4 linked regions of the Homo sapiens genome follow. The protein of the gene in region 3 interacts with the protein of the main gene of each other region in a biochemical or structural test. Each region holds a gene or a part of one and is shown on either strand. Other genes may lie near its edges. The genes, in order: SDK2, CRHR1, PDZK1 and RPS6KA1.

Evidence for each region.
Region 1: the proteins of PDZK1 (region 3) and SDK2 interact in a test that uses a peptide from one of them, tested with the Homo sapiens proteins (2 studies listed by IntAct, with this or other methods).
Region 2: the proteins of PDZK1 (region 3) and CRHR1 form a complex in vitro, tested with the Homo sapiens proteins (2 studies listed by BioGRID and IntAct, with this or other methods).
Region 4: the proteins of PDZK1 (region 3) and RPS6KA1 interact in a test that uses a peptide from one of them, tested with the Homo sapiens proteins (2 studies listed by BioGRID and IntAct).

What each region holds. Positions count from the first base shown.
Region 1 is NC_000017.11:73,333,884-73,340,473, forward strand, and holds the end of SDK2 (protein sidekick-2 precursor), read right to left. Parts: intron 5,058-6,590; coding exon 4,704-5,057; 3' UTR 4,572-4,703; coding exon of another isoform or gene 4,486-4,571; 3' UTR 501-4,485; downstream 1-500.
Region 2 is NC_000017.11:45,822,292-45,829,319, reverse strand, and holds part of CRHR1 (corticotropin-releasing factor receptor 1 isoform 2 precursor), read right to left. Parts: intron 106-7,028; coding exon 1-105. Other genes in the region: LINC02210-CRHR1 (CRHR1-IT1-CRHR1 protein), read right to left, coding at 1-105.
Region 3 is NC_000001.11:145,670,465-145,676,376, forward strand, and holds the end of PDZK1 (Na(+)/H(+) exchange regulatory cofactor NHE-RF3), read right to left. Parts: intron 5,750-5,912; coding exon of another isoform or gene 5,694-5,749; intron 3,863-5,693; coding exon of another isoform or gene 3,806-3,862; intron 3,418-3,805; coding exon 3,193-3,417; intron 2,557-3,192; coding exon 2,266-2,556; intron 1,176-2,265; coding exon of another isoform or gene 1,143-1,175; exon of another isoform or gene 1,026-1,142; coding exon 972-1,025; 3' UTR 801-971; coding exon of another isoform or gene 780-800; 3' UTR 521-779; downstream 1-520. UniProt on the Homo sapiens protein: A scaffold protein that connects plasma membrane proteins and regulatory components, regulating their surface expression in epithelial cells apical domains.
Region 4 is NC_000001.11:26,553,758-26,560,785, forward strand, and holds part of RPS6KA1 (ribosomal protein S6 kinase alpha-1), read left to right. Parts: intron 1-456; coding exon 457-494; intron 495-784; exon of another isoform or gene 785-836; intron 837-838; coding exon 839-981; intron 982-1,393; coding exon 1,394-1,464; intron 1,465-1,779; coding exon 1,780-1,868; intron 1,869-2,896; coding exon 2,897-2,961; intron 2,962-3,240; coding exon 3,241-3,343; intron 3,344-5,049; coding exon 5,050-5,180; intron 5,181-6,968; coding exon 6,969-7,028. UniProt on the Homo sapiens protein: Serine/threonine-protein kinase that acts downstream of ERK (MAPK1/ERK2 and MAPK3/ERK1) signaling and mediates mitogenic and stress-induced activation of the transcription factors CREB1, ETV1/ER81 and NR4A1/NUR77, regulates translation through RPS6 and EIF4B phosphorylation, and mediates cellular proliferation, survival, and differentiation by modulating mTOR signaling and repressing pro-apoptotic function of BAD and DAPK1.

The sequences.
Region 1 (6,590 bases), on a different chromosome or scaffold from region 3:
AATAAAAATGGACAAGGAGCTTGCCTTAAAATATCAGAGAGGCAGCATTATGTTTTGAGAGCCAGAAGGCTTTAGTACAAATCCTGGCTCCACCACTCCCCGAGGGCAAGCCACTTAAAGTCTCCCTGTCCCAGGTTTCCTCCTTGGGACTGTCGCAAAGATTCCATGAGTTAATAAACGTAAAGTGATTAGAACTGTGCCTGGCACAGAGTGAATGCCATAGACATATTAGCTATTGCTATTATTATTATTCACTATAATTTGCACATTGCATCAAGTAGGTTCTTATTCTAAAAGTTTAAAATAAATAAAATAGTGCATTTCACTGGAAGGCACTCACTTATGCATTAAGAGAGCAGATAAGTCAGACCCTTGACTCTTCTCTGCAAAAGCACAGCATGGCTAAAAATTGCTGTCTGGGGAATGAACTGCTTGGGTATGATACTGGGACAGGTGACCCCATTCATGTAACAGGAAGGAAAAGAATGTTGCTTCAAATCTCCAAAAAAAAAAGTTTATTTATAAAATACTGACAGTTTGACAGGACACGGGACTTCTTGTGGTATATATTTCAAATCAATTTCTTTCTTACCTTTCATTTAAAAAATAAACCTGCTAACACGCTATATGACATAGAGATATATATTTTTTTCTTACAGACAGACACCTGCCATAATGAATACTCTCCCCATAATTTTTTGTTATATCTTTTAAATCAAAAAATAAAGATTTGTGTTGATTTTTGTTTCTGGAGTCTAGATGGATGGAGAAAGGTAACACGTTTAAATGCTTTTGGTTATTCTGATGGAAACAAAGAGAAGGGGGGTGGTCCCGAGGGGGCACCTGTGCTCAGGTGGTGGTCAGGATTGCCATGTGCGCATGCCCATGGGTGTCCCTGGATAGGGCCATACAGAGGCACTGGGGAGCGGGTGGCGGCTGCTCAGATGGTCTCCCCTTTACCTTCCTGCCCACCAGCCCCTCACCCAGGGTAGGCACCTTCAGATGTGCACTCTGGGAAGCTGAGGGAAGCCCCTGCCCAGCCAGAGTGGCACTGTGGTGAGGCTCTGGCACCTTTAGAAGCACTGCCCAGGGAGGCGTGGGCAGCAACAGAAGGCCTTGAGGCAGCGTGCACCAGGTGGGGGCAGCCCCCGCTGTGTCCTTGTTTCCTCTAAATCACGGCAGTGCCAGGTTTGGGGGTAGGAGTTTTGGGGGCCGGGGGGTGAGGGATGGACAGAAGGGGAGGCAGCCTGGGTTTGCAAACTCTCTGGAGCCCTAGGAGGATGGTGGTTCTGGAGCCCAGAGCATCTTTTTGGTTTGTCTTGGCAGTGTGGGTGTGGAGCTGACGTCAACTCTGGAGGCGCAGCCAGGAAGGGGAAAGCCCTGGTGTGCCCAGCATGGGCTCCTGGGTGCAACACTGGGAGATTGCTTAGGGCACAAGGAGGCAATGCCAAAGGTGCCAGGTGTGTCCTGGTGTGAACCTGCTTTGGGTGGAGTCCCACAGGCAGGGGCCCTGGCATCACTGGCACGGAAAATCACAGGCCAGAAAGGGTCCCACTCTTTCTACAAAGGGCAGGGCCCACCACCCCTTTCTAATGTGGCCAGGTTTCTGGGAGGACGGTTGGGAGCCTCGGCTGTGCCAGTAGATATGTAAACAAGGGCAAAGAGACGTGTCCTGAAAAAATCTAGAGTTCCACAGCTGCAGGCCTGGGCTTCCAGCTGTGGCTGGGGCTGTGGAGACAATATTCCAGATGAGTGGGTATTGACTAAGTGTGGGACTTTCACCATGGGCCCAGCCTGATCTCATGGGCTTGTCTAAATTTGCGTGGTGTCCTCACCCTCTCAGACAATAGATCCCAGCCACGCCCCAAGTGCAAGCAACCCAGGCCACCTGTGCCTCACAGGGGAGAGATGGCTTCAGCCATCAGAGGGAGTTCAGGAGTCTCTTTGCTAACACACATACAGATGTGTGTTCTGTGCATATTTGTGTGTGCATGTGTGTAAGCACAGGCGTGCATGGGCACCATCCCGCATGTACACGTAGGTGTCAGCATGGGTGCGAATGAGCGTGTGGGGAGTGGGGGGGTGGAATATCTTAGTGCACCAGGTGATTCATTAAAGGCAAAGGAAAATTGACCTCATGTGCAATATATACACAGACACAATGTTTTTACTCACTCCTGCTTCCTCCCAAATAATCCCTCACTGGGCTGGGCTTAAATAATTCCCTAATGCAAACTGGGAACTTCCTTAAATGGTTAAATGCTCAGCAGAGAGGGAAAGGGATGAAGTTATTTAAAAAAAAAAAAAAAAAAAAGATGAGAGGAAAGAAAAGAAAGCTGTGCGGCACGATCACAGGCCGGCAGCTGCAGATGTGCTGCCATGGAGATGCCAGATGCTGCAGAGGGTGGGGGCGGAGGTGGCAGGGGTGGAGCAGGTGTCCAGCTGACTCCACTGCAGCCCCCAGACAAGTCCAAGGAGGCCCCGAGAGCACCTTACTTCCTGGAGGGGCAGAACCTCAGCCCTTGGTTCTCCTTTGGGGAAGATTGTGCTTCCCTTCCCAGGCCTCCTTATTGGAGAAACCGCTTTTTGGACACTGGAGCTGGGCTGGCCTGTCTGCTGAGCCATCTTCCAGCATCTCCCCGTTCACATTTCCCAGGGGTCAAGTGCTTCAGGAAAAACTCATGGCTGGGTGTGCCCGTTCTTTGGGCCCCAGACCCTGACTTCCCTTCCCGGTCACCATTAGCACAGTGACTGACTTGGGGCTGTAGGAGAGTGGTCCAGGCTCTCTCTTACCTTGGCATGTTTCCCAAATCTCCTACTTGGGCTTCCTTGAACTCTGCTCACCCACCCCAACAGAGCATCATCTCTTGGGCAGGGCCAGCAGCGCCTGTACACAGTGCACAGAGGGAGCCCTGCTCCACGAAGGGGCTCACGCTGAATCAGACAGGCCCCTGTGGGCCATCTGCCACCCATCTCAGCGGTGGGGCAGGTGTTGGGCTGGCCTTACAGGGCTGGCTGAGGGCACAGAGGGCCTTGGACAATGTATGGAGTTAGATAGAAAGGCTTCTCCCTAAACCCTGGCATCCGTAAGTACCAAGTGGACGGGAAGATCCTGGCCACTGGATGTGGCTTTTTGCAGAACACTCCTTGGAGCAGATTGTGTATGTGTATGTGTGTGTGTGTGTGTGTGTGTGTGTGTAAAAGCATTCCCTCCCATCAGCTATTCTTGTCACTTGGTCCCATCTGACCTGCCCCTGCTGGGCGTGCAATTCAAATGCTGGGTCCACTTTGGACTGAGCTTCCTGACCTGCCCCTTCCCCTCCCCGCCCTGGCCAGGCGGAGCCCAGCCTGGAAGCTGTTACTGGGGGTTAGGGTGTCTTTGCCTTTTTGCCTGTAAACTGGGTGCTAGGCTGACTGAGCAAACTCTGGGTATTCCAGCCTCTGGACCAGGGACTTGGGCCACCCCTCTGGGCTCCTGTGCCTCTGTGCTTAGGAGGCTGCCGGGTGGCAGTGAGAGGGACACAGATCTGAAAGTGAGTGTGCTGTCTGGCTAGGAGGGCCCAGATGAGTTTGTTCTGGAGAGGATCCCTAGACCCTGTTCCTTGTAAGTGCATGGGAGATGTGTGTGTGTGTGTGTGTGTGGTGAGGATCTATCCAGTGGAGAGTGACGTGTCTGCCCAGAGGGAGATCCCTCAGCTGTGCCCCACTCCCCAGCCTTGGGAAGCTGACTACCCCTTTAAAGAGAGGACGGATGGAACCTGGATTGGAAGAAAGAGAACAGTCAAAGTGTCATTCTTATCTTGCCCACAATGCGTTAAACCTAATCATCCCACAGTGCCAAGGCCAGTCGCCTTATTTACACCTCTGCTCCCCAGACTTCACCTTTCCTTGTCCATGCTCAGGAAAGTCAATTCCAGCACAGGGAGGCAGGGGTCAGTTGTGGGGGGTTTCTCCCCTACCCTTGGGCTCTCTTCCTTGGATTCAATATTTTAAAAAATATGCAGGAACAAGGAAGGCGCTAAGCAAATTCTCACCCTTTAGTTTTTTGTTTTTTGTTTTTCTTCCTTTTTCTAAATAAACCAAATGCTTGGTGGAGAAGTTGAGCAGGGGAGATGGGCAGTAGAGGTTGCCAAGACAGGGCAGGGGGTCTGGATGAGGCTGTCCGATGCCTGCCAGCCACAGTGATGGTGCATGGAGGGAAGGAGGAGCAGAGAGAGAAGATAGGCGTGGCCTCCGGGATGCCCATTCTTTTTGCAGAGAGCAGCGGCAGTGGGTCCAGGGGTCCTGGAGGGGCTGGAAGGGGGCAGCTGGCTGGACATCCAGAAGCTTTTTCTTCCCTCGGCCACGCCTGCCTGGCGGCCTCCAGTCCTTAGCCTCCGCTCCCTCTCTCTCTCCAGATGCCCGCCCCACTCCGTGTCCATAGCAGTGACACAGCCACTTCCCCAGCTCCGTGTAATTCCCAAGGGAGCAGTGAACCCCACCATCTCAAAGCTGAAGAGCTGCTGGCCACACACATCCTCTCACGGTTTTCTCCCTCCTTCTGAACGCCGGCTTTGCTGGCCCTGGAATCTCTGGAAAAATAAACTCAGGAGGTGAAAAGTTGACTTGGTTTCTTGGTGTTTTTGTTTTCTGGCAGGCAGTGAGAGGAGGGGTGAAGGAGGAGTTTGGTGCCATTTCTCTTTCTGCTTTTTCCTCTTCTGATGTCAAACAAATGATGAAAATCCTGCTATGGGAGCCCGGGAGCCTGGGGCCAGGCTGCTGGGGGGACGGTAGAGGGTGCTCTGCTGACTTGGGGGGTTAGGGGGGTTCTGGGGCGTTGGAGTCCGACTGGCCTTGGGCCGAAAGAGGCTGCCCTGCTGGGTGCTGGTGCTGTTGGTGACGGTGGTGTGGTCTGGCTCACCCGAGTCGCTCTCCGTGTAGCTGTAGGCCTGTGCCCTCGAGATGCCCTTCTGCTGTCGCCGCCACGAGTTGTAGTATGTGGGGTCACTGATGTAGTGGTTGACAAAGGAGTGGGCCTTCTGGTGGTTTGAGTCGACCTCGTACTCGCTGTCACTTCCCTGGGAGGACAGAGAATCAGGGTGTGTCAGTGGCCCCGTAGGGACAGGCCATTGTGGTTGGGGCCGGAAGGCACAGGGCATTCTGGTTCAAAACTCTGCTCTGCCTCTTTCAAGACTTGGACTGTGGGCCTCCCAGCCCCCTCACTGCCAAGGGGGTCTGGTGCCCGTTTGTGCCCGCCTGCTGCTTCCTTCACAGCAGATCCGGAACCGGAAGGATCTACTATGGGGTTGGCCCAGAGCTGGGAGATACCTGATAGAATCAGAAGACCTGAGTTTTTTTTTGTTTTTGTTTTTGTTTTTTTTTTTTGAGACAGAATCTCGCTGTTGCCAGGCTGGAGTACATTGGCATGATCTTGGCTCACTCCAACCTCTGACTCCCTGGTTCAAGCAATTCTCCTGCCTCAGCCTCCTGAGTAGCTGGGATGACAGACATGTGCCACCACGCCTGGCTAATTTTTTTGGTATGTTTAGGGGTTTCACCATGTTAGCTAGGCTGGTCTTGAACTCCTGACCTCAAGTGATCCACCCGCTTCACCCTCCCAAAGTACTGGGATTACAGGTGTCAGCCACTATCCCTGGCAAATTTTATTTTCTTTCCTTTTTATTCTTTTTTTTGGGGGGCGGGGAGTGGAAGGGGCACAGGGAATCACTGTGTTGCCCAGGCTGGAGCACAGTGGTGTGATCCTCTCTGTAGCCTCAACCTCCTAAGCTCAAGCTATCCTCCCATGTCAGCCTTCTGAGTAGCCAGGACTATGGGTGCATGCCACCACGCCCCACTAACTTAAAAAAATTTTTCTCTTGTGATGAGCTCTCCTTATGTTGCCCAGGCTGGTCTAGAACTCCTGGACTTAAGTGATCCTCCTGCCTTGGTCTCCTAAAGTGCTGGGATTACAGGCGTGAGCTACTTTACCTTACCTTTGTTTTCTTTTCTTTCTTTCTTTTTTTTTTGATACGCAGTTTCACTCTTGTTGCCCAGGCTGGATGCAATGGTGCAATCTGGGCTCACTGCAACCTCCACCTACCCGGTTCAAGTGATTCTCCTGCCTCAGCTTCTGGAGTAGTTGAAATTACAGGCACCTGCCACCATGCCTGGCTAATTTTTTGTATTTTTAGTAGAGATGGGGTTTCACCATGTTGGCCAGGTTGGTCTTGAACTCCTGACCTCAGGTGATCCACCCGCCTTGGCCTCTCAAAGTGCTGGGATTCAGGCGTGGGCCACCGTGCCCAGTCTACCTTTGTTTTCAATTGAAGTGAGGTTCACATAACCGAAAGTGAACCATTCTAAAGTCTATGACTCAGTGCATTAGGACCGTCGCAGTGTTGTGCAACCACCACTTCTATCCAGCCCTGAATCATTTCCATCACCCCAAAGTAAAACCTTGTACCCAGGAAGCAGTCACTCCCTATCTCTGCCCCTACCGGTCACTCCCTATATCCATGCCCCTGGCAACCACTAATCTGTTTTCTGTCTCCAGGGATTAACTTATTTGGGACTTTCCTATAAATGGGATCATATAATATGTGGTCTTTTGT
Region 2 (7,028 bases), on a different chromosome or scaffold from region 3:
GAGCCGCAGAAAGAGGACAAAGGCCACCAGGAGGGCCACCAGGGAGATACAGTGGCCCAGGTAGTTGATGATGACTGCGACATGGTAGTGCACCTTGCTTTTTTTCTGGAGCAGGAGAGAGGGGCAGAGGTGAGCCTTCTGCTGGATGGGAGCTGCTCTGTGAGGACATCGCCTAGGGGTGGCTGGGATGGAGCGGGTCATGATCTCAAGGGCCACTCCCCCTTCCTGAGCATCTGCTGAGGGTCAGGCCTCGCTGCAGAGCAACGCCGTCCAGTTTGAGGCTCTGCTTGTCCCTGAATCCCATGCTGTGTTCACTGCTCCGTGTTGTGTCGAACTGAATCTCCACATCACGTGGGATTCCCCACTCCACATGGACCCCCCGCCCCTGCATGCACAAGCACATGTGGCCGGCTCACAGGTGCGCCCTCACACTCGCATCTACCCATGCTGCCACCCAGTCAGAACACCAGGTGGACCTCTCAGCTGCAGAGACACCAAACTCCCGGGATTTCTCTTCTCCACCCATTTCTGAACTGAGTCACCACCTTCTCAGCCACCCCTAAATCCCTCCTGCTGCAATGCCGCCTGCTCCTGTGAGCAAGGAGGGGCCGGGCAGCTGCTGGGCTCTGGCATCCACAGAATCAGCAGAAACCACAGAAAAGTCTCCTTAGGCTCCATAACTCACTTTCCGGGGCCTTCCCCATCCCTGGCCCAAGGGGATCTGTGCAGAGTGAGCAGGATCCTCTCCCAGGACTGTAACACATTCCCCGGGTTTATTTCTTAATGAATTTAATATACTGATGGAGGTCACTGCCCTCCTCTTTACAGCAATCTTGAGTTCCAAGAGTGGTGAAGCCTTCCTGTTTACAGAGGATTTTCATATCTGTTATCGTCTTAAACCATCAGGGCAACCCCGTGGGGGGAGCCGGAAAGGCATCTGGGCTTTATTTTGTAGGAAAACAGCACAGAGGTTATGCTGACGCGCTGGAGGTCGCGCAACTCCAAAACCACCTCTTGCCTGCACATGTAGATTGGCAAGATACGAAGGCTGCAAACAGGTCCCCAGCCCATAATAGGGGACTGGTCAGTCCCCATGCCCAGCTCTCTGCAGACTCCTGCCCAAGAGCACAGCCCCCATCCACACTTTTATAGGTCCCAAGAAGCAGGGCCTAGAAACCAAGAGCTTGACACGCAGTCAAACTCCAAAGCAGTGTGTGAGTGAAGGAAGGAAAGACGGGTGTTGAAAAGCAGGTGACTTTGAGAAGGGAGGGGTCCCTGGCAGCACCTCCCTTCCTCCCCGTTTCTAGGCTCTAGGGTGGGGCTGAATGATCATGAGGCACAAAGGTGGGTGACATGCAAGTGCTGAGAAGCACTGAGCTCACAACGGCCCTCATCATCTTCTCAGAGCCACCAAGGAGCTACTGGCCACCAAGGAGCTACTCCATAGGCCTTCCTGTTGGAATTACAGAACCCACTTGAAACCAGAGATCAAGTCCAGCCCTATCCACCAGGCATCCCAGGAGAAGCCAAGACCCTATGCCCAGTTCCGCCCGGCCACCAAGGCCCTTCTGAAGGAGCACCCTCATTGGGGAACCTCTCCAGAGGCTGCTACAGAAGCTCTGTTCTTGGAGCTGGTTTCCAGGCAGAGGCTTTCTGGAACATGGCAGGTAATTACATTAGCAACTCCAGCCTCCAAAGGACTGGGATCCAGGGAGGTGTAAATGAAGGCAGGAGAGACAGAGACAGAGAGGGGAGTGAGGAGAGGGTACCTATCACCCGTGCAAGTGGGGAGGGTCTCTGAGCGCCTGGCGGCAGATGCCCCAATCCGGAGGCTCTGGAAGATATGCACACATCACAGGCTGTCTGGAGCTGGTATTTAATATCCTTTTATTAAATTTTCCACAAATCCATGCTGAGAAGCCCCTGGGTAATGACAACATGTGTGGAGCCGAGCATGGCACAACACCCCGGCCTTGTTCACAGGCCCAGGCTGGGCGGGAGGAGCGCAGTGTGCAGGGAGACCCTTCAGTGCTGCCTTCCAGGGCCCCTGCCTCACTCCCGAGTCAGGCCGTACCGGGCCCTTGGGGTTGGAGTGGGGAGGAGTTATCTGTTAAGCACCTGCTGTATGCTGAGCACTGTGCCAGGAGCTCTGCAGACACTACTGCTTTTCTTTCCCACAGCTGCCCTTGGAGACTGCTCCTCTCATCCCAGTTCTTTCCGTAGAAGAGACTGAATAATTGGCCACGCCACGCAGCCGGTATCTGGAACCTGGGTCTGCCTGGCTTTAAGCTCCCTCTTTTCCCTGTTTCCCAGGGACATTTCTTTTTTTGGGTGGGGGAGGGATGGAGTCTCACTCTGTCGCCCAGTCTGGAGTGGTGCAGTGGCAGGATCTCAGCTCACTGCAGCCTCTGCTTCCTGGGTTCAAGTGATTCTCCTGCCTCAGCCTCCCGAGTAGCTGGGATCACAGGCATGCACCACCATGCCCAGCTAATATTTTGTATTTTTTGGTAGAGATGGGGTTTTGCCATGTTGCCCAGGCTGGTCTCGAACTCCTGAGCTCAGGCAATCCACCTGTCTCGGCCTCCCAAAGTGCTGGGATTACAGGCGTGAGCCACCGTGTCCGGCCCCCTGCGACATTTCTTGGGGGACAAGCAGGAATTGAAAGCAGAGGCACTCTCTGGGGTGGTCTCACGCCACTTTGGGCCCAGGAGCCTCGGGGGACCTCCTGCTGGGACAATAGCGCCCAAGAGGGCTTTCCTCCAAGAGCCTGAGGGAGAATCAGGCCAAACCATTCCCGGGGGACAAAGTCTCAGTGTGCCTCCCTGAGCAGTCGGGCCTGGGCCGGGTTCAAGCCCTGTCTCTCATCGGCCACATCAGCATCATGCAACCTGAGAAGACAGCTGGAGAGACAGCCTGAGGGATGGCTGCTGATACCCTGAGACAAATACATCCTGCGACACCCAGACAGAAGCCAGTGACACTGTGACATTTCCAATAACAACCAGAGTTCTGGCCAGCATTATTTAGAGAGACAGCAAGGCCTTAAGAGGCACCCAGGAACACCCTGAGAGGTGGCCAGTGATACCTGGAGAGGAGAGTCAGCAGCACCCCCAGGGACAGCCAGTGACACCCCGACCGATGGCCACGATAACAGCAAAGCAGCTGGGATGTCCGAAGGACAAATGGGCACAGCTACCCCTCGGGCCCTGACCAGCACTCCATCTCCATCCAGTCTGGAGACCTAAGACCAGCAGGCACCCCGCCCTAAGGAGGGTGGCACAGCGTGGTACTTGGCAGAGGCCACTCCGCTGTACCCTCAGTGATCTGAATTGAATAAGCAATTTGTGCCCGGCTGACTCTGACTGGACTCTCTGCAGGACACCACCTCGTCCCAGGCGCTGCAGTGCCAGATCCGTCCTGATGCCTCTCTGGGTTGGTGGCAATGAGACCTCCCTTCCAAGCTCCCCACTGGTGCCCACTCCATTCTGGCACGTCCTCTCCACCGAGGCTTCCAGAGCTACTCCTCTTACCCTGCAGTGGGCACTCACTCCAGCCCCTCGATCCTCAAAGGGTGGCCCCTGGCCCAGCAACAGCACGCAGAGGAGCACGCAGAGATCTTGAGGAAAGTGGAATGTATGCCCTACGCCAGGCCCATGGAATCGGAGCTTGGTTTTAGGAAAAAGCACCTCTGCAGTTCAGAAGCCCTGGTCCAACCACCACTCACCTCTCCCCACACGGTGAGCAGTGAACCTTGGTCCACAAACCAGACCCCCAGAATCCGTTTCATGTCCCACCACGGTGTGCTCTCCCAGGCTGTGCCTGAGGCCCAGGCTCCTGTGCGCAGCAGAACGTGGGGAAAGGGGATAGAGTGTGTGCAAGTGTTGGGTGGGTGGGGGAAGGCTGGACGGTGGGGAAGGGAGTGAACAGTAGTAGCGGGAGGTGGTGGGGGGAGGAGAGGGTGCTGATACAGGCAGCAGGTGTAGGGGTGGTGCTGGGGGCTCAGTGCCATCCCCCGGCCAGCCATGCATGCAACAGTTGGGGGCCTGTCCCCTGGTGGTGCTGGCTGCGGGCAGATCTCCTGGGGTGCCTGGCCTTGAGGTGCCCTTGCAAGTCCCATTTCACAGGCAGACTTCTGCGAATCCATTATCTGCGATACCCCAGGGCGCTGGAGCTTAATTAGGGCTTAGCCCAGGCCCAGAGCTGAGAAACCTACCACTCAATTAATTGGATACTTTCCTCTGCAGTTCTGGGAGGGGTCTGGCGAGGCTGGGGGCTGGCAGAAGGGAATGGCATTTTCACTAATTAAACTAATCGATTACCCAGAGTGCTAGGCACCAGGCCAGCAGGGGCTGCAGAGGAAAGAGATGGCAGAGCCAGGCACGGATGGGCTGGGGGGTGGGGCGGGTCACTCCCCCAGGTGTACACTACAACCTCCCCTGACCTCACAGGGGAGATGAGAGACAGGGGGCGGCAGGTGAATGGAACGTCTCCCATAGGCCAAGACAGGCCAACACCACCCTTCCATCCCCAGAAGGCAGAGATCTGAATTCCTGGCCACCATTTTTGGGAACTTGGTGAGGTTAAGTTGCCTCCTCAAGGTCATGCAGCAGGTTCCCGTTGAAACCCAAACCCTAAGGTCCGTGCTATTCCCACTGCAATGCAAAGAGGGGGCTGATGAGACCGGGCTCCCGATCCTCTTCCTTGTCCTAACCCTGCTGGTGGACAGAGGTAGAGACCCCTGTCCTGGCAGGGTTGGGTGTTGCAGGGCAGGCTGAGGGTGGCTAACCTACTGCCCTTAGGCCTTTGAAGGGTGCTGGGGAAAATGGGGGCTGCCGAGTGTCCCCATCAGCCAACTGAAAAGAAGGGGCTTGCAATAGAGCAGGAGAGACAGGTGAACCACGAAGACCCCGCGCTGACCCTCAGGAGGGTTGAGTGCAGGGCGTGAAGCTGGGACAGACAGTGCGGCCTGCAGCCTGACCTCATGGCTTAGCTGTGCCTCCTGGACACCATCCCTCTCTGCAATGGCGTGTGGTCCTGAGTCACTGACAGCACTGACCCGCTCCTCTGAGCACCAGCCCTGTTTCCTTTCCTCCCACCTCCTCTACTGTGTGCCAGGCTACGGGCTCCTCACATCCCTGAACGGTCTTGCCCACTCCCACCCCACCAGCCAAGGCCAAGGCCATCTCCTCTGGCCCAACTAAGTCTCCTAACCTGGAACCCCACCTCCTTCCCCCAGTCCAGGAGGAGCCCTCCTCCCAATCCCAGGACTTCCCAGGTGGGCTCTCTGTGTGGGGGCTTAGCAAGCTGAGGGCTTTCCCTGCTCAGATCAGATCATCAGGGAGCCTGACCAACCCACCCCAGCCTTGAGTGCCACCCAAAGGTCTGGCCTGTGGGATCTGAGATGCCAGGCAGCCCCTCGCCCTGCCAGAGCAGCACCGTGGAAGAACTCGTGAGTCTTTTAAGCTAGGCATTGACCTAGCTGCAGCTTCCGGAAGGAGACAGCAGAGCCCCGCATTAGCTCAGTGACTTGAGGCCAGGAAGCCAGGGGTGGGGCTAACCAAAGCTTGCCAGGCCGGGGTGGGAGCTACAGGTGAAGGAAAGTGATTCTTTCTCCGTTAACTTTGTTTCACGCCAGATACCTGGCAGTGGGCAAAGCAGAGCCTGGGCTGCAGAGCCTGTGCTCCGGAGCCTGGGCTCCAAAGCCCTGGGTTCCGGGCTCTGACTTAACTGCCAAAAATACAAAAATTAGCCCAGCATGGTGGTGCATTCCTGTAATCGCAGCTACTCAGGAGGCTGAGGCAGGAGAATCACTTGAACCAGGGAGGTGGAGGTTGCAATGAGCCGACATCGCGCCACAGCACTCCAGCCTGGCGACAGAGGAAGACTCTGTCTCAAAAAAAAAAAAAAAAAAAAAAAGGGAATGTCCCAGAGCCACGTGACCTTGTGTGAATCATTCCCCTTTTCTGGGCCCCAGTCTCCCCATCTGTAGTGTGAACGGGTCGCACTAGATTAGAGTTTCTCACTTTTGCCCCATCAGAAGGCTCCCCTGGGGCACTCATGAAAGACACAGATTCCCAGGTCCTCCTTGGACAGTGTGATTTCTTAGGTGTTGGGTGTGGCCCTGGGACCTGTATTTGGACAAGTGCTCTGGGAGATTCCATTTTTTTTTTTTTTTTTGAGACAGAGTCTTGCTCTGTCGCCAGGCTGGAGTGCTGTGGCGCGATCTGGGCTCACTGCAACCTCCGCCTCCCTGGTTCAAGTGATTCTCCTGCCTCAGCCTCCTGAGTAGCTGCGATTACAGGGATGCGCCACCATGCTCGGCTAATTTTTGTATTTTTAGCAGAGATGAGGTTTCACCATGTTGGCCAGGATGGTCTCGATCTCCTGACCTCGTGATCTGCCTGCCTCGTCCTCCCAAAGTGCTGGGATTACAGGCGTGAGCCACCGCACTTGGCCCCACTTTTTTTTTTAATGGAATTTCGCTCTTTTTGCCCAGGCTGGAGTGCAATGGCACAATCTCGGCTCACTGCAACCTCCGCCTCCTGGTTTCAAGCGATTCTCCTGCCTCAGCCTCCCGTGTAGCTGGGATTACAGGTGTAATCCCGCCACACCCGGCTAATTTTGTATTTTTAGTAGAGATGGGGTTTCACCATGTTGGACAGGCTGGTCTTGAACTCCTGACCTCAGGAGATCTGCCTCTGGACGATTCTTATAACCAGGCAAGTCTGGGAACCTCAAGATGGGAAGGAGAGTCTCCACGGTCCCTTCCAGCTCTGATCTTTAGGCGACGGGATTCTTGGGACTGCTTAGGTCAGTCTCTCTCTTCCACAATCAGAATCCCTGGCCCTCGGACAGCCTGGGGTGTCCCCCCTTCTGCCCTTTGACCCCCGTCTTCCTCAGCACCAAGGGAGAAAGCGTCGGGTGGGAAAGGAGACAGGGTGGGAGAGACCGAGGGCAGTAGCAGCTCCAGGATAGATATATTTGTGCCTCTGCCAAATATCACCCTTCAAAGATTATTCATTGCAGCA
Region 3 (5,912 bases):
CTTTTGCCTTACGTTCATTTTATCAAGCATAGCTTGGTATTTATTATGCTTGTGTGATCTAACATCAGTTAGCATCCCACACCTCCTCATCTGATCCTGCCCCATTAAAATAACCAAGAAAGAGGTTATCTGTTCTTTTCCGGGAAAGGGGTGGTATGCACCTGAAATAGATTTTACCAAAAGAGAGATTTCAGGTATGTCATTTTTTCTTGATTTCCTGTGAACTTAGTATTATACCCTACTTTCAATTCGGTAGTGATGTTTCCTTTTTTTTTTTTCTATCTGCCCCTCACGCTGTGGGGTGAAACCGTGAATAACTTAACTGGGGGAATAAGTCACTTGTGAAAGGGAAATGTTGAAAAATTTTTAGAACACTCAGACATGCAATTTAAGAAAATTCTGAATTTTATTACTAAGGTCTTATTCTGTACTTTATTGTGTTTTGGGTTTCTAGAGGCAAATGAAGGTTAAAGCATAAAAAGTGAATCCAAAACAAAAGCACTATCAAGCATACTCAAAAGGCATTTGTTAATGGTATTTATTCTAGCAACCACAACATTGTTACAAAAGCACAATTTTAATAGGCTTATCTGCTAAGATGCTTTTATAAGCAGCTGTCACCTATACAGAGTTATGAATCATCTTTGGTGCTCAAGGAACCTGTAGAAGTAAGAGACATCATCATACAGAGAAATGTAGTTAAGTTAAGTTGAAGCTTGGAAAAGATCACATGAAAAAAATCTAGCTCTTGCCTTATCTCTTCCTAAGTTAAGCATAAATTAGCCGTCTGCAATAGCCGCCTGTAAGACAAATGATAACAGAAGACAATCACACATGGTGAATGGTTTCCAGTGGAGTTTTTCTTCTAAAGAGACAGTAAACAGGTCACAACTCATTCCTTGAGAAAGGATTCCTATTAAATACCCAGAAACAGCTATCAAATAAACAGCCAAAGCTATTACTTGTTTTCATCACATCTCTGTATCTTCAGAATTGGAAGAAGAATGTGAGGCTGTACTGTGGGCCTGTGTATAAGAAAACAAAGAATTTACAAATGGTAGAGTAATGAAAGAGGGATGATCTATTCTAGAGTTGCATGACTTAAGTCGGGGAGTAGAGTCACTCACTAGAATTTCTTTCTTTCACAGCATGCAGTTGACAGCAATTGTGTAGAGCTGATAAATCAAGTAAAAAGTTTATCAGTATTGTAATGGGAACCCCCAGAAGAGCCTGAATCAGATGATCTGGGTATGACTAGAAGTCAGGTGACCTGAATTCTACACTTGATTGTTTTCAACTTGCTGTTTGACACATTAACAAATTCCTTAATGTCTGTGTATATTTCTTTTTTATAAGACTAGGATATTGACTTCCTAAAGAGAAATTACAGAATTTTTAAATGACAACTAATACAACTAATAGTATTTATTAAGCATTCCTGAATACAAATCAGTGGGCATTGTGTGTGTTCATTAAACTGAGTTTATTAAAATGAATATTCCACCCATTAGCAGAATTAATATAATGGAAAGAAGAACAACATTGAATTAAACTTTTTTAGAGTCTCGGCTTTGCTATAAATTTCCTTTATGAACTTGGATAAGTCAGTTTACTTTTCGACCTCAAGTTCATCTATGAAAAATTGGGCAAAAATATAAAACTGAGACTTACCAAGAAATTTAATCCAAATATATAGAGAATAATATAGAGAATGCTTAATCTTTCCTAGTAATAAAACTGGATTACCTGTCAGTTGTTTTAAACAATATTGTCTTTAACCGTCACCACTTACATGCTCACTATGAGCCAGCCACTATTCAAAGCACTTTAATATAGTTAATCTTAGTTAACATGATCCTGATAACAATCCTACAAATTATTCCTGTTTTATGGGTGGGAAAACTGAGGAACAGAACAAATAAATCCATTTCCCCACAGCTGACAAATGACAGAACCAGAATTCATATCTAGATCATCCGATTCAGGCTCTTTTGGGGGTTCCCATTACAATACTGATAAACTTTTTACTTCTTGATTTATTAGCTCTAGACAGTTGCTGTCAGCTGCATGCTATGAAAGTAAGAAATTTGTTGTTCTTATACTGCCTCCTGTCCTCTACAATAACTTGATTTGTTAGTTATCTTTACATTTTCATTTTCTAGTTTTAAAAAAATCTGTGGCAAACATAGACATTAAATATACTCATAGGGACTGTACCCATACTCTAGTAAATTAGATCACGAAAAGAAATAGGCCCCCACTCACCCGTTCTTTTGCCATGTGCGAGTCATGGTTTGACTCCACCACTATTCCTTCTTTAGAATCTGGAGGGGTGTCAAGTGGATCAGCCAGGGAGGAAACAATAGGGATTTTCTTAGCTTGGAAATAATCATAGGCCTTCTTTCCACAGACTAGAAGTGTGACATTCTTCCCACTGCTCTGGATTCTATCCACCACCTTCTCATAGGGTTCATCTAGCACATTCACCCCATTCACTTCAATGATGACATCCTCATCCTCTAGCCCAGCCAAGTCAGCAGGACCGCCCTTCTGTACCTGTGAACAGAAGTTCTGAGTTATCAATTTCAAACAGAGAAGGGGACATCAGACTAGCTCTCCTTAAGAGAATAGATGAGGAGCTCAAGAATTTATTTTTAATCATGTTATTATTTCTCCTTGAGGTATAGAAGTTGAGAAAGGTGTTCTAATGCTTTTATATTTATGAAGGCTATAACTTCCATATTCACATGATTAGTGGTATTATAAATAGTGGTTCAGCATCATATGTCTTCTGGGATGAAGGGGGATAAATAGGTCCCCCTTCTTCACTCCCAACTTGAAAGCTTTAGGGATTCTTATCAGTCCCTACAGGGTAAGGGGCATTATGCCAAATGCACAGAAGCAAACAAATATGACTGCCAATCAGGGTTGATAGTGACTGTCAACTAGAGTTCAGTCAACTCACACTGTTTGGAACAGATGTTTGGGAAACAAACAAACGTGAGCTTATGATGTACTGGTAGCTAACCTAAAGGGTGTGGGACCATGACAACATTTATCTGAACCCAAGTGAGACCCCTCAGTGTGTGCCTTCAATGGAACCTCTCTACTAAGCCATCAATGGGTGGGAAAAGCTGAGACTATCCTAATTGTGGCTGTGTTTGTTGGGCTGCTGGAACCAGATTACCATACCTCTTTGATGAATGAGCCTGGCAGACCCCGAATCGCATTTAAGTGAAAGCCATAGCCATTTTCACCTTTAGCCAGCCTGCAGAGTTTAGGCTTATGATCTACTTCCTCTGTAGTATCTGGTGGACTTGAGACTTCCAGAGAAGTGGGAGTAGGAGCTGGAGCCTCCTTGACAGAGCCATTGGGCAGTTCTTGACTTTGATAGTAGAGAAATGGAGAAAAATGAGCCTTTTGAAAAATAAAGGGAAAAAACATTAACTTAGTTGTAACCATGAGTAAGTTATACTTTGTTAAATGTGCTGATTTTTAAGGTATCATACATATTCCACTCTTCTTCTGGATGTGTCTGATTGTAGGCTGTAAAATTCCTCTACTACCCCAACCAGGAAAGGTATAAAAGAAGACTGTGCTTCGTTATGGAGTAATATGTGTATACATGTACACAAATGCACACATGAACATAAAAGCAGTATAGGATGCGGTACAAGGATCCCAAAAGAAGTCTAAAAAATTGCTAGTTTCTTTTGAGTGAGTTCATGATAGTGAGCAAGTCACTGAACAAGCTATACATAATCTCCCTGTTGGGAAATGACATATCTGACCGACTAGCCGGTACCTCATGCAGAGTACATTCTTCTGGCTTTTCCTTTCGGTAAGATGGTCTTCAGAGCTCCTTAAACACATTAGAAAAAGTAAAACACAAGACACTTGTGATAGTTAATTTTAGATGCCAACTTGACTGGATTAAGGAATACCTAGAAGCCCGGCAAAGCATTATTTTGGTGTGTGTCTGTGAAGGTGGTTCCAGAGGGGATTAGCATGCGAGTCTGAGTGAACTACAGAAAAGGCAAAGGTGTCAGTCTGTCTGCTAGAGCTGGGATACCCTCTTCCTCTCCTGTGCTTGGACATCAGAATTCCTGGTTCTCCGGCCTTTGGACTCTAAGATCTACAGCCGCAGCCCCCCAGATTCTCAGGCCAAATGCACAGAAGCAAACAAGTAGGACTGCCAATCAGGGGTGATGCCAGTAATGTGGCTCAGTCAGATTTGGACGGAGCCACACTACTGGCATCCCAGGGTCTCAAGCTTGAAGACAGCCTGTCGTGGGGCTTCTCAGCCTCCATAATCATACAAGCCAATTCCCCTAATTAATCTCCTCTCATACCTGTATCTATATCCTACTAGATCTGTCTCTCTGGAGAATGTTAATATAACACTATTTTTATCACTATCCAAAGATTCAAAGCTACTAGAAGAGACCAACCCATATACACAGGAATAATTGGTGAGAGGGTGACAGCTGTTATATGGTCACATATTGTAACAAAAGTTAATTCCAACCCTTTGCTGCTTGCCAATACCCTCCCCTTCCAGACCTGGGATCTGTGCTTATTTATTTTGCTATGTATTGTTGTAAGCATTAGCTGTCACTTCTATTATGCCAAACTCTCCAACATCTTTAAATACTCCTAATTCATATCAACTCCCAGACCATCCATGTAAAGAAATGATGATCTTGAATACCGAAGAGGCATAGAACAGGAAACAGGATTGATTTTTTTGTAATAGAATTACAAGCCTAACTGGCTGTTTTAGTTGAGACAATTAGAAGGGTGGACCTGGGTATGGTGTGATCCTGGATCAGCAGCTAAATGGCTGCCCACACGTGTCCGGAACATTTGTTAGGTGATGAGTAGGAAATCAAGCAATGGAAGGTGAGCACAGTGTGGGCTCTACTTCAAATCGCACTGTTTAGCAGCCTGACTAAAATTAGATTTTTAGTCCTCTGGTTATCATGTGTCTTACTAACCACAAGACCACATCTCCTTCCTTTCTAAGTGAGAATACCACCAGCACAGAACCTCCTAGTTACCCAGTTCAACTAACTTCAGACCTTTCAGTCATATACTTGCAACAGTTCCACAATGGAGCCTTTCTCTTTAAAATATGGAAAATTATCAGGTGACTCATTACATGCAAAAATACGTCTGATAACACTACCCAAACAAGCAAATCAACTGTATCTGACAGTCGCAGCTCATCTCGAGGCAAAGTGCAATAACATTAAAACACTTGAGATTTTGGCCGGGCTTGGTGGCTCATGCCTGAAATCCCAGCACTTTGGGAGTACAAGGTGGGCGGATCACTTGAGGTCAGGAGTTCGAGACCAGCCTGGCCAAAATGGTGAAACCTCATTCTCTACTAAAAATATAAAAATTAGCCAGGTGTGGTAGCACACACCTGTAGTCCCAGCTACTTGAGAGACTGAGGCAGGAGACTCACTTGAACCTGGGAGGCAGAGGTTCCAGTGAGCTGAGAACATACCATTGCACTCCAGCTTGGACAACAGCGGGAGACTCTGTCTCAAAAAAAAAAAATGAGATTTTATTCATGCTTCATTCAGATAATTGGGTGTCTAGTATGTGCCAGGGACTGCTAGAGGGTTGTGTTTTACTCACTGATGTATCTCAAAGATCTACCCTCCACCCCAACCTACAGGGCTTACTTTGGAGAGCGGGGAAGGAGATGATGAGGGCAGGCTTCTTTTTCGATCAAAGTTCTCTATTAACCAAAACAGAAAAATTACAATTAAATCATTCTATGATAAGATCAGGAGGGGTCAGAATCCCCTTTACAACAAACAGCTGCAGCAGCCGCCTCTGATTTCTGCTTGACTTTCCACCAACTGCAAAATGACTCATCATTTCTGGCAGCTTCAGTTGGT
Region 4 (7,028 bases), about 120 Mb from region 3:
TTTAGAGGTCTTTCCTTGATAAAGCCCTATAGAATTTTCCCTAATATCTAACTACCCTCAAATGATAACTAAGGAGCCAGGGGCAGGTGGTGAGTTGGAATAAGATCTGGCTTTAGTGTTAGGCAGCCCTGTATTCAAATCCTGTCTCCACCTACTAGCTAGACTTACTAGCTCAATGACTGTAGAGCTACTTAACTGCCCTGAGCCTTAGTTTTCCCATTAGCAAAACGGGGCCCTAATAGTACTTGCCTCACACAGTTGCTTCAAGGATTAGCAAAAAAGATAGGCAACACCCCTGCGTGGTACTGCTACCACCCTGCAACACCCGCCCAGTCATCAGAGAGAATTGGGTGGAGCACCTCCTCTGGGCTGAACCCAACTCCCACAGCCCTGTGGTAACACCATCACCCACACGGCCACAGCTGAGGGGCCCTGACCACTATTTCTCTATTACAGCATCCTTCTGGATGAGGAGGGCCACATCAAACTCACTGGTGAGTGGAGGGCGCCTGCCCCCTCGGGACCCAGGGGAGGACAGGACAAGGTCATGATAGGTCTCGGCTGAGTGCTGGGGGCTCATTCTTCCCGAGAAGCCGTGCCAGTTACTTGGAAGTGGTCAAAAACTCAGGCCTCAGACTTGGAACACCCTCAGCTGGAATCCCAGCCCCTCATTGTGTAACGTTGAGCAAGTCACCTGACCTCTCTGGGCCTTAGCTTCCTCCTGAGTGTCATGGGGGTGATGCCTTCTGGCCTCTGGGCACGGGGGTTGGGTGTGCAAAGGGTGGCAGCAAGGAAGGCAGGGGTCCTAAGGTGTGTCCTCCTGCCCTCCTTGCTGTAGACTTTGGCCTGAGCAAAGAGGCCATTGACCACGAGAAGAAGGCCTATTCTTTCTGCGGGACAGTGGAGTACATGGCCCCTGAGGTCGTCAACCGCCAGGGCCACTCCCATAGTGCGGACTGGTGGTCCTATGGGGTGTTGATGGTGAGTGCCCAGACAGGGGTAAAGGATCCAGCCCAAGCCTCTGGCCTCAGTCTCCCTATCTGTACAGTGAGGGGGTTGATCATTTCTAGGGCTCTCCCCGTCTCCTCTCACAGCCAAGCTGGCCTCACCCTATATGCACCTGCAGTTTTCTTCCTTGGAAGGATCCCAGGCTTGACCCCACCTGGGACGCGCCTAACCCAGTGCTGGCCTTCTCCCCAGCCTCGCGCCCCCACCGCTGCTCCTGGTGGTCTGGTTGGCAGAGGCAAGAGGGACGGGCATAATTCTTGCTCCAGGCTGACTTGGATGTATCAGCAAGAATCCTGGGACTGGGGCAGAGGGGTCTGACTGGGAGGAGGCGGGAGGTGTGTCGGAGACAGGGATCAGAGCCTGAATAGATCCTTGTCCTCTGCAGTTTGAGATGCTGACGGGCTCCCTGCCCTTCCAGGGGAAGGACCGGAAGGAGACCATGACACTGATTCTGAAGTAAGCCCCAGCCCTGCCCTGATAACAATGGACTCCTCCAAGCCCCAGCCCCAGTTTGGGGGTCAGAATATTATTACCCTGTCCCTGCCTCAGCTACCCTCTCTAATGAGACTCTCCTCTGGGTTAAACATTATACCTTCCAGAGCCCCTCTTTCATCCCTGGGGGCCTGTGGGTAGGATCCCTGAAGCCTTTGGGAAGTGAATTAGTGGATGGCTTGTCTAGACTGAGCTGGGAACTAGATCTGGACAGGGGCCGGGGGAGATGGGGCCTCTGGGGCAGGGCTCAGCCTTGATGAGTCCCGGGGGCTGTTTCAGGGCGAAGCTAGGCATGCCCCAGTTTCTGAGCACTGAAGCCCAGAGCCTCTTGCGGGCCCTGTTCAAGCGGAATCCTGCCAACCGGCTCGGTAAGCAGCCCCAGCTCAGGGGAGGGGATGTGGCGATGGGGAGCCGGGTACAGCTGCAGCCTAGGCCACAGGGCCACATCTGGGCTGAAAGGGGCCGTTGTCCTTTGTGTGGGCAGACAATGCCGCGGGCCACCCTGCTTTCTGGCTCCATGTGTGGTGTTGTGGAGGGGGGAGTTGACCTGTGTGTAGGGGGAAGGCAGGAACTGAGTCATCCCTACTCCCTCTGGGGACAAGGACAGAGGCCCCCACACAGCTTCTCCGCCAAGGCTGCTGGCACAAGAGAAATAGCATGAGCTCAGGAGTCAGAAGGCATAGGTCCCAATCCCGGCTCTGTGTCAGGTCCCCACTGCCTGGCACAAAACAGTCCCTCTATAAATATTTGTTAAACGAATGAGGCCACTTATGAACTAAGTGACCCCAGGCAGGTGACTTCACCTCTCTGCACCGCAGGTTCCTCGTCTCAATGGGAGATGATGATCCCAAGCTTGCTTCAGGGCTCTGTTGATGAAATGAGGTTGTGTGAACATGCCGGCATGTAGTAGGTGTCCAGTGTGTGCTGGCTTCCCTGGCTCCTGGGTTCATCTGGTCCATGACCAGCTGTGTAAGGTCCAGTCAAGGCCCCTGGGGTCGAATGGAGTAACAGCCTGTCCTATGGTTGAAAAGGTCAATGGGATAAGAGGAACAGAGATGAGGCTTGCCTTGGAATGAGGTGGGGCTCTCTGTAGGTCTCAGAACAAGCTCAGCTTCTGTTCTAACTGTGTGGCCTTGGAGAAGTTGCCTAAAGTCTCTGGGCCTTCCTCCTCCCACTGGTACATTGGAATTTCTTCATCAGAAGCTCCAGAAAGTGGAAAATGCTGAGTAGGTGACAGGCCTTAGGGTGATGGCTGGGTAGATTTGAGGCTGAGTGAGCCCATTTTCCCCTCTGCTCCAGCAGCTGGTCCCAGAGCCCTGTGAGGCTGCTTGGTGGGCAGGGTAATATCTGGGACTTGTGCCAGCCAGGGACAGACCCTTCATTTGGGCTCTTTCAGGCTCCGGCCCTGATGGGGCAGAGGAAATCAAGCGGCATGTCTTCTACTCCACCATTGACTGGAATGTGAGTGTGTCCACCCACACCAGGGCTCTGGCCAGGGCTCAGCCATCTTGGCCACAGGAAGGGTGGTGGGAGGGGAGCCTCTGCCAGCGAGGGCCCCAGACGCAGGAGCAGAGGGTCACAGCCTGCCCTTGAAGACAAGGGCTGGCCTCCTGAGGGCAAGCAATTCCGAGAGCTGGGCAATATGGCCTATGTTCCAAGCCCAGCACCTCCTCCTGCATGGGGCTCCTGGTGGGCTGTTGAGGATGCCATGGTGACCAGAGTGCCCACCCCACTGTGCAGAAGCTATACCGTCGTGAGATCAAGCCACCCTTCAAGCCAGCAGTGGCTCAGCCTGATGACACCTTCTACTTTGACACCGAGTTCACGTCCCGCACACCCAAGGGTGCGTCCCTTATCTGTTTTGTCTGTCTTGGGCTGGTACAGGAGGGAAGCCGGGAGTCGGTGGCAGCTTGGGGGGCAGAGATAGTCAGGGACACTGACAGGCCGAGGTATGCGGGTGGGCAGGCGGGTGAGTTTCTGGCTCCGTGGGACTGACTTTGTCCCTGTCTCACTCCGCCCGACTCTCTCACTATGGGGCTCTGTGGGTCTCTTTGTGTCTGGTGAGAGAGTGGGAGTGGGGATGTGTGGGTGGTGAAGGCCACAGTAGAAAAGCCAGGACCCCTGCCCGGGGCACCTTCCAGCCCACTGGGAAGACCAAACACATCAGGCTTACCATCACGTCAGGGAGAAAGAATCTGACCCAGCCACACTGTGTGGTGGCTGAGCAGAGGTGACAGTGCCCATAGGTCAGGGACAGGCATGGGAATCAGCTTTGGCTGCCCTGACTGCCCGGCCTCCGTGTACTTATCTGGAACAAGGGCACAGCCACAAACCCACTCATTCCCTGGGGTTGCTACAAGAAGCCAGTGAGGGAGCTTCTGGGAAGGAACCTGGTGAATCCTAACTTTTTGGCCAGATATTGACAGTGGGTGTGGGGTGGAATGTTCTGGGAAACCTCCTATAAGGGCATGTTTTAGGAGAGGGTGTGCTTTTCTTCTCTCCTCTCCTCCCCTCCCCTCTCCTCCCCTCCCCTCCCCTCCCCTCCCCTCCCCTTCCCTCTCCTTCCCTTCCCTCTCCTCTCCTCTTTTCAAGATGGAGTCTCGCTCTGTTGCCCAGGCTGGAATGCAATGGCGTGATCTCAGCTTACTGCAACCTCCACCTCCTGGGTTCAAGAGATTCTCCTGCCTCAGCCTCCCGAGTAGCTGGGATTACAGGCATGTGTCAGCACGCCTGGCTAATTTTTGTATTTTTAGTAGAGACGGGGTTTCACCATGTTGGCCAGGCTGGTCTCGAACTCCTGACCTCAGGTGATCCACAAGGGGGTGCTTTTCTCACTGCACTTGCACGCCTCTGATGACAGAGACAGCACTTCTCCAAGCAGTCCGCTGGGCAACGTGACAAGTGCAGCTTCGTAGGAGTCAGGGGCCGGAGGAGCAGCATCAGGCAAGGCTTCTCAGAGGAGGGAGCGTGCGAGTTGAGTCTTGAAGGATAGGCAAGGAGTGGATTATCTAGTTAAAGGGAACAGTGTGTGCAAGGGCTCAGAGACCCCTCTAAGGATCTGAGAAGTCCAACATGGCTCAGCTGTGGTATGGAGAGAGAGGAGGTGAGGATCACAGGGCCCTCAATTGCCAGACTCAGGAGCTGGACTTACTCCTGAAGGCAGACGGGAACCTTTGAAAGGTGTGGGCAGGGTGGCAGATTTGTGGTTGGAACCTTCCCTCTGGCTGCTGTGCAGAGATGGACCTGAAGGGGCTGACGTAAGATGGGGAAGCTGGGGAGGAAGCATCCAGGAAGGGATGAACTGTCTTGGCCTGGGATGGAGGTGGATGTGAGAGTCTTTTTTGTTCCTCATGCGACAGGACTGGGCTGGTCTAATAAACACATATGAGCAGTTGGGCCAAGGCCTGTGATGGACAGGCCCTCTGCAGGCTCCCGCCACGGCCAGCCCCTGAGGCAGGTCTGGAGGCCCTGTGCTCCCCCTTTGCTGGGCTGCCTCAGGGTCGAGGGGACCTCCTCAGGTACCCTCACATTCTCCTTCCATCCGTACAGATTCCCCAGGCATCCCCCCCAGCGCTGGGGCCCATCAGCTGTTCCGGGGCTTCAGCTTCGTGGCCACCGGCCTGATGGAAGACGACGGCAAGCCTCGTGCCCCGCAGGCACCCCTGCACTCGGTGGTACAGGTGAGGGGGGCAGGGGGCTGCTGCTCCATTATCCTTTTCTAAAGAATGGCTGAGTACACAGGCTCTGAGTTGGACAGAACCAGGTTCATACCCTCATGCCACTGTGGGACCAGTAGGGCCTCCAACATAAAACAGGGACAGTAAGGCCCACCTCACACAGTGGCCCTGATAATTGGATGATGATATGGGTGTACATTTCCCAGCACAGAGCCAGGGTCTGGGTACATGTCAGGAGGTGCCCAGGGTGGTGGTGCCGAGTGACTGTCGTGTCTCCGGCATAAGTGTAGCGAAGGACTTGGATCTCATCACACTTGTTCCCCATTTGTACACTTCTACTGCTAATGAAAGTTTCAGGTTGAGAGGCAAGAATGTAGACTGTGGAGCTCATTGCATGGGTTCCAGATTCACAAGATAATGGACTTTGGGGTTTTTTGTTTGTTTGTTTTTGAGACGTAGTCTTGCTCTGTTGCCCAGGCTGGAGTGCAGTGGCACAATCTCAGCTCACTACAGCCTCCACCTCCCAGGTTCAAAAAATTCTCCTGCCTCAGTCTCCCGAATAGCTGGGACTACAGATATACACCACCACACCCAGCTAATTTTTTTTTTTTTTTTTTGTATTTTTAGTAGAGACGGGGTTTTACCATGTTGGCTAGGCTGGTGTCAAACTCCTGACCTCAAGTGATCCGCCCACCTCAGCCTCCCAAGGTGCTGAGATTACAGACATGAGCACCTGACCAGATAATGGACTTTGGATGAGATACTCCCTTCCTCGTGCCTCAGTTTCCTCATCTGTAAATGGGGGAAATGATAGAAGCTTCCTCCATAGAGCTGTTATGAGGATTATTAGAGTTAATACATGTAAAGTTCATGTGGGCTGGGCACGGTGGCTCATGCCTGTAATCCCAGCACTTTGGGAGGCCAAGAAGGGTGGATTGCTTGAGGCCAGGAATTTAAACAGACCCATCTGGCCAACATGGCGAAACCCCGTCTCTAAAAATACAAAAATCAGCTGGGCGTGTTGGCGCGTGCCTATAGTCCCAGCTACTTGGGAGGCAGAGGTTGCAGTGAGCTGAGAACGTACCACTGCACTCCAGCCTGGGCAACAGCGTAAGACTCTGTCTCAAAAAATAAATAAATAAAATAAAAAATAAAGTTAAGGTGACTATGTAATTTATTTTCCAAACTGGGACATCTTAGTCCAGGACAAATATTAAATCAGACTGGATGCAAGGACCGCATGCGCAAGCCAGGGCTGGCCGTGGGGCATGCAGTCACCTGATGAAAGTGCTTAGAATAGTGCCTGGCACACAGCACACACTAAGCACCATTCAGCATTGCTACGGCTAATGTCCCAGAACCTTGAGACACCCCATGAGTTGAGCTGTGACACCCCAGAAAGGGAGGCAGGCCACTCAAAGCCGTACTTAGTGGCACAGCTGGAACTCAGCTCAGGGCTCCTGCGTCCCTCCCAGGCCTGCCCAGACTTTTCAGAACTAAAGTCCTCTCCATGTGTGTTGTGACCCTGTTTCCCACTCCCTACACTGCCCTCTGACCACAGGCTGCAGTCCAGGCAGGCTGGGAGCCAGTGAGTATGCCCATTATATAGAGTAGAAAACTGAGGCCCAGAGAGGGGCAGGCTGTCACCTGCGGTCACATGGCCAACACTCTACCCCAAGTCTCCTGGCCCTTCCCTGGTGCTGTCTCTACTGAGCCAAGACCTTAGGTCCTGGGGGATGACCCCTAGCACTCTAGAGCCAGGGGTCAGCCACAATTTTTGGTCTCCTACAGCAACTCCATGGGAAGAACCTGGTTTTTAGTGACGGCTACGTGGTAAAGGAGACAATTGGT